Regions from separate parts of the Homo sapiens genome. Here region 1 is linked to region 2. Evidence: fine-mapped expression QTL. A gene starts in region 2. The other region holds a variant in brackets. All regions are shown on one strand. Distances are between the middles of the regions.

Region 1 (5,324 bases), 150 kb before region 2:
CAAGTCTTTGTTATTGTGACTAGTGCTGCAATAAACATACATGTGCATGTGTCTTTACAGCAGCATGATTTATAATCCTTTGGGTATATACCCAGTAATGGGATGGCTGGGTCAAATGGTATTTCTAGTTCTAGATCCCTGAGGAATCGCCACACTGACTTCCACAATGGTTGAACTAGTTTACAGTCCCACCAACAGTGTAAAAGTGTTCCTATTTCTCCACATCCTCTCCAGGACCTGTTGTTTCCTGACTTTTTAATGATTGCCATTCTAACTGGTGTGAGATGTTATCTCATTGTGGTTTTGAATTGCATTTCTCTGATGGCCAGTGATGATGAGCATTTTTTCATGTGTCTTTTGGCTGCATAAATGTCTTCTTTTGAGAAGTGTCTGTTCATATCCTTTGCCCACTTGTTGATGGGGTTGTTTGTTTTTTTCTTGTAAACTTGTTTGAGTTCATTGTAAATTCTGGTTATTAGCCCTTTGTCAGATGAGTAGATTGCAAAAATTTTCTCCCATTCTGTAGGTTGCTTGTTCACTCTGATGGTAGTTTCTTTTGCTGTGCAGAAGCTCTTTAGTTTAATTAGATCCCATTTGTCAATTTTGGCTTTTGTTGCCATTGCTTTTGGTGTTTTAGACGTGAAGTCCTTGCCCATGCCAATGTCCTGAATGGTATTGCCTAGGTTTTCTTCTAGGGTTTTTATGGTTTTAGGTCTAACATTTAAGTCTTTAATCCATCTCGAATTAATTTTTGTATAAGGTGTAAGGAAGGGATCCAGTTTCAGCCTTCTACATATGGCTAGCCAGTTTTCCCAGCACCATTTATTAAATAGGGAATCCTTTCCCCATTTCTTGTTTTTGTCAGGTTTGTCAAAGATCAGATAGTTGTAGATATGTGGCATTATTTCTGAGGGCTCTGTTCTGTTCCATTGGTCTATATCTCTGTTTTGGTACAGTACCATGCTGTTTTGGTTACTGTAGCCTTGTAGTATAGTTTGAAGTCAGGTAGTGTGATGCCTCCAGCTTTGTTCTTTTGGTTTAGGATTGACTTGGCAATGCTGGCTCTTTTTTGGTTCCATATGAACTTTAAAGTAGTTTTTTCCAATTCTGTGAAGAAAGTCATTGGTAGCTTGATGGGGATGGCACTGAATCTATAAATTACCTTGGGCAGTATGGCCATTTTCATGATATTGATTCTTCCTGCCCATGAGCATGGAATGTTCTTCTATTTGTTTGTATCCTCTTTTATTTCATTGAGCAGTGGCTTGTAGTTCTCCTTGAAGAGGTCCTTCACGTCCCTTATAAGTTGGATTCCTAGGTATTTTATTCTCTTTGAAGCAATTGTGAATGGGAGTTCACTCATGATTTGGCTCTCTGTTTGTCTGTTATTGGTGTATAAGAATGCTTGTGATTTTTGCACATTGATTTTGTATCCTGAGACTTTTCTGAAGTTGCTTATCAGCTTAAGGAGATTTTGGGCTGAGACGATGGGGTTTTCTAGATATACAATCATGTCATCTGCAAACAGGGACAATTTGACTTCCTCTTTTCCTTAATTAAATACCCTTTATTTCCTTCTCCTGCCTGATTGCCCTGGCCAGAACTTCCAACACTATGTTGAATAGGAGTGGTGAGAGAGGACATCCCTGTCTTGTGCCAGTTTTCAAAGGGAATGCTTCCAGTTTTTGCCCATTCAGTATGATATTGGCTGTGGGTTTGTCATAGATAGCTCTTATTATTTTGAGATATGTCCCATCAATACCTAATTTATTGAGAGTTTTTAGCAGGAAGCATTGTTGAATTTTGTCAAAGGCCTTTTCTGCATCTATTGAGATAATCATGTGGTTTTTGTCGTTGGTTCTGTTTATATGCTGGATTATGTTTATTGATTTGTGTATGTTGAACCAGCCTTGCATCCCAGGGATGAAGCCCACTTGATCATGGTGGATAAGCTTTTTGATGTGCTGCTGGATTCGGTTTGCCAGTATTTTACTGAGGATTTTTGCATCGATGTTCATTAGGGATATTGGTCTAAAATTCTCTTTTTTTGTTGTGTCTCTGCCCAGCTTTGGTATCAGGATGATGCTGGCCTCATAAAATGAGTTAGGGAGGATTCCCTCTTTTTCTATTGATTGGAATAGTTTCAGAAGGAATGGTACCAGCTCCTCCTTGTACCTCTGGTGGAATTCGGCTGTGAATCCATCTGGTCCTGGACTTTTTTTGGTTGGTAAGCTATTGATTATTGCCTCAATTTCAGAGCCTGTTATTGGTCTATTCAGAGATTCAACTTCTTCCTGGTTTAGTC[C/T]TGGGAGGGTGTATGTGTCAAGGAATTTATCCATTTCTTCTAGATTTTCTAGTTTATTTGCGTAGAGGTGTTTATAGTATTCTCTGATGGTAGTTCATATTTCTGTGGGATTTTTAAATTTTCAAACCCCTGAAGCAGCAAAATAAATTTGGGACTAGAAAGGATAATGTTCATGGTTTTGGACAAGTTGGCAAGTATAGCACAGTGGTTAAAAGCACTTCTTTACAGCCCTTCTCTATTGTCTACTAGCTGACTGAAGGCAAGTTACTCAACCTTTCTGACTCTATATATCCAAATGAACATTAAAATGGTACTTACCTTGTAAGAATGTTCTGAGGATTAAATAATATACTAAATAATTCAGTGCCTGGCACACAATAAACTTTCAATAAATGTCTGTTATTAGTCTATTTTAACAGGATTATTCTTATTACTATTTGTGGCCCCTGGTATGTGCAGGAGGAAGCCCACCCCAGGTCCACGGTCTAGGCCAAGAGACCTTTCACTAACCTGGCAAGTAGGCCGTGGGTGTGAGGCATTTGCCTTGGGACCCAAACTGCTGTGTGCTATCATTTTAGCTCTAACACCTTTACCAGGAAGGAGAGTGGCTTGTCCAAACGTAGGAAGACATGTACCTATTCCAAAGGCATGAATTTTACATGCCTTTGGACATCTGTCAGAGAGAGGTTGTACTTTAAGCCCTATTGTCTTTTCCATGTGGTCAATTCTTCATTAGTGTTTCACTGGTAGAGACTGTTTTGGAATCATATAAAGTTTTGCTAGGACAATGTGTTTTGGGTATGGAGGAAGCATGAAATATTAGAAAGAATCCTGGAGTGGGAAGTTGTAAAATCTGGATTTGATTTTCAGTTCTGCCTTTGGGTAAATTTCTTACCACTCTGAGCCTAGTATTCTCATTTGAAGAAAATATGGGGCCTAATATCTGCCAAACTTACTTCGAAATAATAAGAGCCTTGGTTTGGGGGATGAAAGGAAAGGCAAAAAGGCAGCATGATGTCAAGTTCTATCACTAAAAGCATAGTGCACAGACTGAGAGAAAGAGAGTCATCCCATGGGACCCCCCCAGTGAGCCAGGCCACATCTAGGCTCTGTTTTGGATGCCCTATTTTCAGAGAAACTGGTTCACACCTGCGTCTTCAGTACCTAGCAAAGTGACTAACTTAAAAAGTAGACAACATCTGATTGACGGAATGCAAATCAGCTTGAGACAGTGTCATATAGGAGATTCCTATGAGAATAAGAATTGTTTGTCCTGGGCAAGGAGGGTAGGAGATGTGAACTTAAGACAAAGATTATCATGTCAGCAGACGCTAGGTATATAATATGTTGCTTCAGAGAGTAGAGTGTTAGGTTAAGGAAGAAAAGACCAAAAGCAGAACTTAAAAAAAATTTGGCTATCTATAAATAGAACAAGTTATGCAGTAAACTCAAAATTACTGAAGTATATGGAGGTAAATTTACCTTCTGTATGGAGGTAAATTTGCTGATTGAATAAGTAATGTATACAGGAGGAAACAATAGCTTTTAAAAGAATGAGGGTAGCTAATTTCTCTGGGATTAGCAAGAAAAATAAATGAATAAATTTATATTACATATTATAATATTACATGTTTACATATTAACAATGTGTTAAATACATACTTATATACACAGATTTATATATTATATGATACATACACCATTTAGTAATTTATTGTATAATATTTGCCCTGAATGATTTTTCTAGAGTAAGGTTGGCAAACTACAGCCCATGGGCCAAATTCAGTCTGCCACCTATTTTTGTAAATAACGTTTTATTGGAACGCAACTCAACCCATTGTTTACTTATTGCCTATTTAGCCGATTATTCCTTGCCACATTCTCAGGAAGTAGGTAGGTTTACTATTCCTAATGTTCATTTGGAGAAATTGAGTCGGAGAGGTTAAGTGGCTATGTAGTTGTCACAGAGAGCATATGGTCCACTAATCCTCTGACATATAAAAAAAGCTAAGGCAAAGTCCAAGAAACCTGCCCACGATCACACAGCTTGCAGGTGGAGTCAGGCTCAAATTCACAGAGTCCAACACTAAAGCCCATGCTCTCAACCATCACTACAGTACCTTGTTTTAGTAAAAATAGAACTTTACATTGATGAGAGCGTAAACTGGTACAACTACTTTGGAGAACAATTTGGTAATATCTATTAAATGTGAAAATGTGTATCTCCTTAGTTCAGCAATCCTACATAGAAATAATGATTTTTTTTTCCTGTGCCACTGGGGAAAAATAAAATTGTTCATGGCCAAAGGATACTAGCTCAGGGGCTCTGCTGACTCTAGGTCTTCCTGTTGCTACCCTAAGGACTGAGAAGACCAGTATCTTGGTGTACTTATGGAAACCATACAGAGAAATTCTTATACAAGCATACTGAGAGATGTGCAAGAATATTCACCACGTCTGTTGTAAGAGCAAAAAATTGTATCTATTGACACAGAATGGCTAAATTCACTGTTAAGTCACACAATTGAACACTATATAGAAGCAAAAATAAATGAAAATGAACTATATAAATCAACATGAATATATCTCAAAAGCACAAGACTATGCATATCATTTTAATAAAGTGTATAAGTATAAAACTATGTTGTTTATAGATATATACATTTGTAGCAATAGTATAATAAATAGTTTAGTATAATGGCAAGAATAGATGCCAATTTAGAATGCTGATAACTGTTAGGGAGGGATGAAATGAGCACAAGAAGGGATAAACAGGAGTTACCAACCATATATATGATGCATTTTTATTTATTTTGAAATATTTGCTTCGGATCATTGATAAAGCTGAGTGGTAAATACATTGTTATCTTATTTCCTATTACTTCCTGTATGTTTATATTTCATAATTTTAAAAAATGTAAACCATTGTGTTAATGGTAACTCACTGACCAGGGCCGCATGAGCTACAACTTAGAATATCTACTGAGAGGGACACATGAGAAAAGAAGTCAGTATGTCC
Region 2 (5,340 bases):
AATCCCATTCCATGGTCCCTTTACCTATCACAATGGTCCTGAATAGACTTTTTTTTACCACATTTTAACAAGTATCATCGAATAATCTTTTTCTTTAACAACAATCATATTAGATCAGTGGAAAATTGAGTTTGAATTCCTGGGAGGTAACATCAGGTCTTTTTAGTGGTTTTTTTTTTTTTGGCCATGAAAGACCTGATGCTGAATTTGTGTGCGCTCGGAAATTAACCATGAAATAAGCACAGCAGCATTCATTTAGCTGTAAGTGGCTCTTAACTTTAGTGCCATCAAAAATATTTATTTACCACCCACACATGAACATAATTGTAATAAAAACTACACTGCACAAACTTAAGAAAACAAGATTCTCCACTTTACTGAGAAGTTAAACATAAATTTTTGAGTGATTTGTGCTTGCCATTTATTGTTAGTTTGTTCAGCTGGCCACTAATATAAATTTTTTGTAATTAAAGTGATAACTGGGATTTTCAAATTGAGCATAGAATATATGAAAATACCAATTAAGGGTGGTCTCTCTTGACTCCAGTCAGGAATATGCCTTCTGTAGCTTTGCTCAAAATACCAGGGCAGTAAATGTAAAGGGGTCAGTAAGATGTCCAGAATGAACAGGTAGGGTATTCTTAAAGAATGAAGTGGCACTTATTCAACCTTTACCCAAGAATAAGCATTAAGTTTTTCGGTATCAGATTGGTTGGATTTTTTCAAGTCAGTGCCAGTATCCAAACCTATTAACAGAAATTTTTTTCCATAAATGAACAATAAAACTCAATAAAAAGCTAAGCAACCCAGACTGGCCGTGGTGGCTTATGCCTGTAATCCCAGCACTTTGGGAAGCCGAGGTGGGCAGATCACTTGAATTCAGGAGTTGGAGACCAACCTGGCCAACATGGTGAAACCACGTCTCTACTAAAAATACAAAAATTAGCCGGGCATAGTGGTGTGTGCCTGTAGTCCCAGCTACTTGGGAGGCTGAGGCAGGAGAATCGCTTGAACCCCGGAGGTGGAGGTTGCAGTGAGCCAAGATTGTGCCACTGCACTCCAGCCTGGGTGACAGACTGAGAGTCAGTCTCCAAATAAATAAATAAATAAATAAATAAAAATAAAAAGCCAAGCAACCCAATTAAAATATGGGTAAAAGATATGAACATTTTCTCCAAAGAAAATATATGAATGGCCAATAAGCACATGAAAAGATGCTCAGCATCCCCAATCATTAGAGAAATGCAAATCAAAACCACAAAGAGATACCATTCCACACTCACTACGATGGCTATCATAAAAAATAACCAGTAAAAAAGTAACAAGCCTTGGGGAAGATGTGAAGAAATCGGAACCCTCATACACTGCTTAGTGGGAAAGTAAAATGGTACAGCTGCTTTGCTTGGCAGTTCCTCAAAAAGTGAAACACGGAGCAATTGCCCTCCTAGGTATATACCCAAGAGCACTGAAAACACATGTCCACAAAAACGTGTAAACAAATGTGCATAGCAGCATTACACACAATGGCCAAAAACTGGAAACAACCCAAATGTACATCAACTGATGAATAAACAAATGTGGTACACTGATACAACAATATTAATATGCTATAAAAAGTAAAGTACTGATACATACTACATGAGTGAAACTTGAAAACATTACAGTATGTCTTTCGACGCCAGACACAAAAAGCCACATATTGTACGCTTCCATTTATATGAGATTTCCACAACAGGCAAACCCATATAAACAGAAAGTAGATTAGTGGTGGCTAGTGGGGTGGGGTCAAGGGGAAATGAGGAGTGATTACTAAGAGAGACAGGGTTTCTTTTGGGGATGATGATCTGGATAGTGGTCATATTTGGAAAACTCTGTGAATATATTAAAAGCCACACTTTAGAAGAATGAGTTTTATGGCATGTGATGTATATCTCAATTTAAAAATTGTCACTACAAAAAAAAGATGACATATATACGTAATATACACATCAATGTATATCGGTAACACATAGATATGTGTCATCTCTCTCTGTAAATGAGCATTTGGGCTTTTAAATTTGAGATATGCTCCGTGTATATAAAGAGAAGAATGAAAGAAAAGGGTGACGGGGCACTCGCGGAGCCCTGAACAGGCATCTGGGGTGTGCCCGAGCCAGCCTCGCAGCATCTCCATCCCAGCTCACCTTCAGCCATCACTCATACACCACCCGCCGCCTGTCCCTGCCTTGGGCGCCCGGGACCGCTTGTCCGCGGTGGCCGCGGAACAGCTTCCCTCAGCCCGAGGTGGGGCAGGCGCGGGGGCCTGGGCTCGGGCGCTGCCCGGCGGCCCGGAGAGGCGTCCGCAGGGGGCACGGCTGCTCGGGCGGGGCCGCTCCCTCTGCTCCCCGCGCCCCCGCCGCCGGGTCCCGAGCCCAGGCCTCTCGGCCCCACCTCCCTCCCGCACCTGATGCGCCCGAACGCGGCGCCGCGGCCGAAGCCGAGACTTCCCCTCCATGGTCACCTGTTCCGGAGCGCGGCGGCGGCAGCGGCCGGTGTGAGAAGGGTCCCCGTCTCCTCAGACCAGACCGAGACACCAGGGGCGGGGGATGGAAGGGGCATTCACCTGGTGCCCGGCACCGGTGGTGGCGGGGAGGACAGCGGCTCCCAGCCCACAGCTCCTTCCTGCTCCCGCGCCTCCTCGCGCGGCTGCGGCCCCAAGCTGACAGCCCGGCCGTCGGCGCCCGCGGCCCCCTGACTCCCCGCCGCCCCGCCCCCGCGCGGCAGCCCCGCGCAAGCGCAGCCGCGCCGCCGCCGGGGAAGCCCGGGCCTTGGTGATGTGGCCCGCGGGGCGGCGACCCGGAGCGACAGCACCGCCCCGCCCGGACCCCGGCCGCGCCCTGGCAGACAGCTGTCGGGAACGGGGGCGCTGGATGACGGCAAGGGGGCAGTTTTCTGGGGAGCCTGCCCAGGAGAGAAGGGCTGTGGCCTCCTTCGGCATCCCTCTTCCCCACCAGCCCACGCACGCCCACTTCACCGCCTGCTCCAAGGTCCGAACCCCCGAATCCATGACTCATGATTTCTCTTCTCAGACCAGCGGCCTCTTTTTGGCTGAGGTCATGTTTCTTGCAGACTGGAGTTAAAACCGAACCACGTGTCTTTCGGCCCAGCAGCGCATAGTGTGGGCGGTGCAGGAGCCGAGACGGGCAGGAACCACCGCAGGAGGGGGTGAGGTTTAGGGCAGCCCCATAGCACCCTCCCCGTGCCAGGCAGGTGTAGGCGCCAAGCGCATGGGGCGCTGAAGAGTTGGCTGGGGTGCCAGGCTTTTCAAGTTTCCCCACACTTGCTTTTAAACCTAGATCAAACTGATCCAAAGTCTGCATGTAAATCCGAGAGCTCATTTATTTTATTTACAAAACTATTGAGCATCTACTGTGTATGATTCAGGGAATGAGACACACCCCAGGGATACTCCAGTGAACAAAAGAAAGGTGTTGGTCCGAAGACAGTTATTTTAAAAATTACACAGCTAATGCCATAATGCCAGGATTGGTGGCTCATGCGTGTAACCTCAACACTTCGGGAGGACCAGGCGAGAGGATCGCTTGAGGCCAGGAATTTGAGACCAGCCTGGGCAAACACAGCGAGACCTGGAGTGGCTAGGAGACTGAGGTGGGAGGATCGCCTGAGCCCAGGAGTTCAAGGCTGCAGCGGGCTATGATCGCATCACTGCACTCCAGTCTGGGCCACAAAATGAGACCTTGTCTCTAAAACAACAACTCAAAATTACACAGCTAATGATACTCTTTTCCTCAAATCAAAGCTTCTACCAATTCCAAGCCACACCAGTGATTTAGTAGCAGCTTTTCTGGTGCTGAAGGACACCAGCATACATTTATCCATGTTCTTTTTTTTTTTCCTTATGCTTTGCGATCAGACTTTGAGCTTTAACCTTAACCTTCAGGGTGAAGGGTGCTTCGGTATCACTCTTGGCCATCTGCAGTCATGCTTTTTATAATGACTCATCCTGGTGTTCCTCACCACCTAAAAATGAAAGTATAATTGCAAGGAATATGGAAAAGCAGTGTTTTGACTGCATTTCCAGCTGGTTTTTGTTCTGGTTGTTTTTTGAATTACAGATCATTAGAAAGTAGCTGCTCTTGAAAGTTTGGCAGAAGTTCCACCCAATATGTGTTCCTCCCCTGAGTGTGTAGTCTTTCAAGATTTCTACACAAAGCATATACAGAAGCCAGCCTGTCTTGGTTTTGAAAATTCTTCCACCATTTTTTTCTGAGAGAGCTGGTGGTTTCTACCGTCCTTCAGAGCATTACATGGCATGTGGCAGGCAACCTTCTACTTACATTCTTCATTCAGTACCGCAAAGTAGTGTGTACTTTGGAGATATGTTAAGCTTCAAGTTGGAATCCAAATTTAAATCAAATTTCAGCCCTGAAAATAACTCACATTGGAATCGGGCGAGGAAATGCCCCCTTGTAAAAAACTGGGTCCTAATGGGTGCAGACAACAACAATCCCATTTCTACTTCATCTCCCGTCTGACAGCTGGCAACTTCAAATGTGAAGCAAGTGGCTTGGACTTGAGGCTGTGTGGTGATGCTGTTGTGATTGCTGGAAAAAAGCCTGAGAGTTATGAGAGTGTATAACAAAGGAGCGTGTCTGTGCTAGGGGGTAAGAAAGATCTCCTGGAGGAAGTGACATTTAATCTCAGCCTTGAAGAATAAGGAGGAGTTAGGGCAGGCAACATAGAGAAGGGGGTGGGGTGGGCAGTGCATTTAGCTGTGGAAACTGCAGGTTTGAAGGCCCTTTGGTAGGAAGAGGCTCTGTCTGTGAAGGCTTTGGGAAAAGGCCACTGTGCTTAGACTGAGAGAGCTACCTGGGAGGGAGAGGTGGGCGGGCCCTTGAGGGTCAGGTTAAGGACTTTGGATTTAATCCTAAAGACAAAAGAAGCCAATGAAGAGTTGAAAAGGTCCTATCTGGACATGAAAAATTGCATTTGTAAAAGATGATCCTGGATGCAGTGGCTCACACCTGTAATCCCAGCACATTGGGAGGCTGAGGTGGGAGGATCACTAGAGGCCAGGAGTTTGAGACCAGCCTGGGCAACATTGCAAGACCCCCATCTCTACAAAAATAAAATAAAATTAGCCAGGCTTGGTGGCACGCACCTGACTGAGCCCAGGAGCTCGAGGCTGCAGTGAGCTATGATCGTGCCTCTGCATTCCAGCTTGGGCAGCAGAGTGTGAGACATTGTCTCTTAAAAAAAAAAAAAAAAAAAAAAAAAAGAGATTATTCCGGCTGCAGAGTGGAGAATTAATAAGAAGGGTGCAACAGAGGATGTGTGACA

What was found. PIP is the estimated chance that this variant, and not a neighbour inherited with it, causes the effect. A credible set is the group of variants that fine-mapping cannot tell apart.
Region 1: its variant is the best candidate, but not a certain one, in a credible set for the expression of SLC41A2 in adrenal gland (GTEx, PIP 0.81).

Annotation. Positions count from the first base shown.
Region 1 is chr12:104,806,487-104,811,810 of GRCh38, forward strand. The region is part of intron 10 of SLC41A2 (solute carrier family 41 member 2); the gene reads right to left. Among named protein-coding and RNA genes, the nearest start is that of SLC41A2, 150 kb to the right of the region's middle. The variant C/T (reference allele first, on the strand shown) is at 2,306.
Region 2 is chr12:104,955,588-104,960,927 of GRCh38, forward strand. SLC41A2 (solute carrier family 41 member 2) reads right to left here and starts at 2,703. Exons shown (of 11, transcript NM_001352171.3): 1 at 2,501-2,703. RefSeq lists silencers at 2,092-2,421, 2,612-2,881.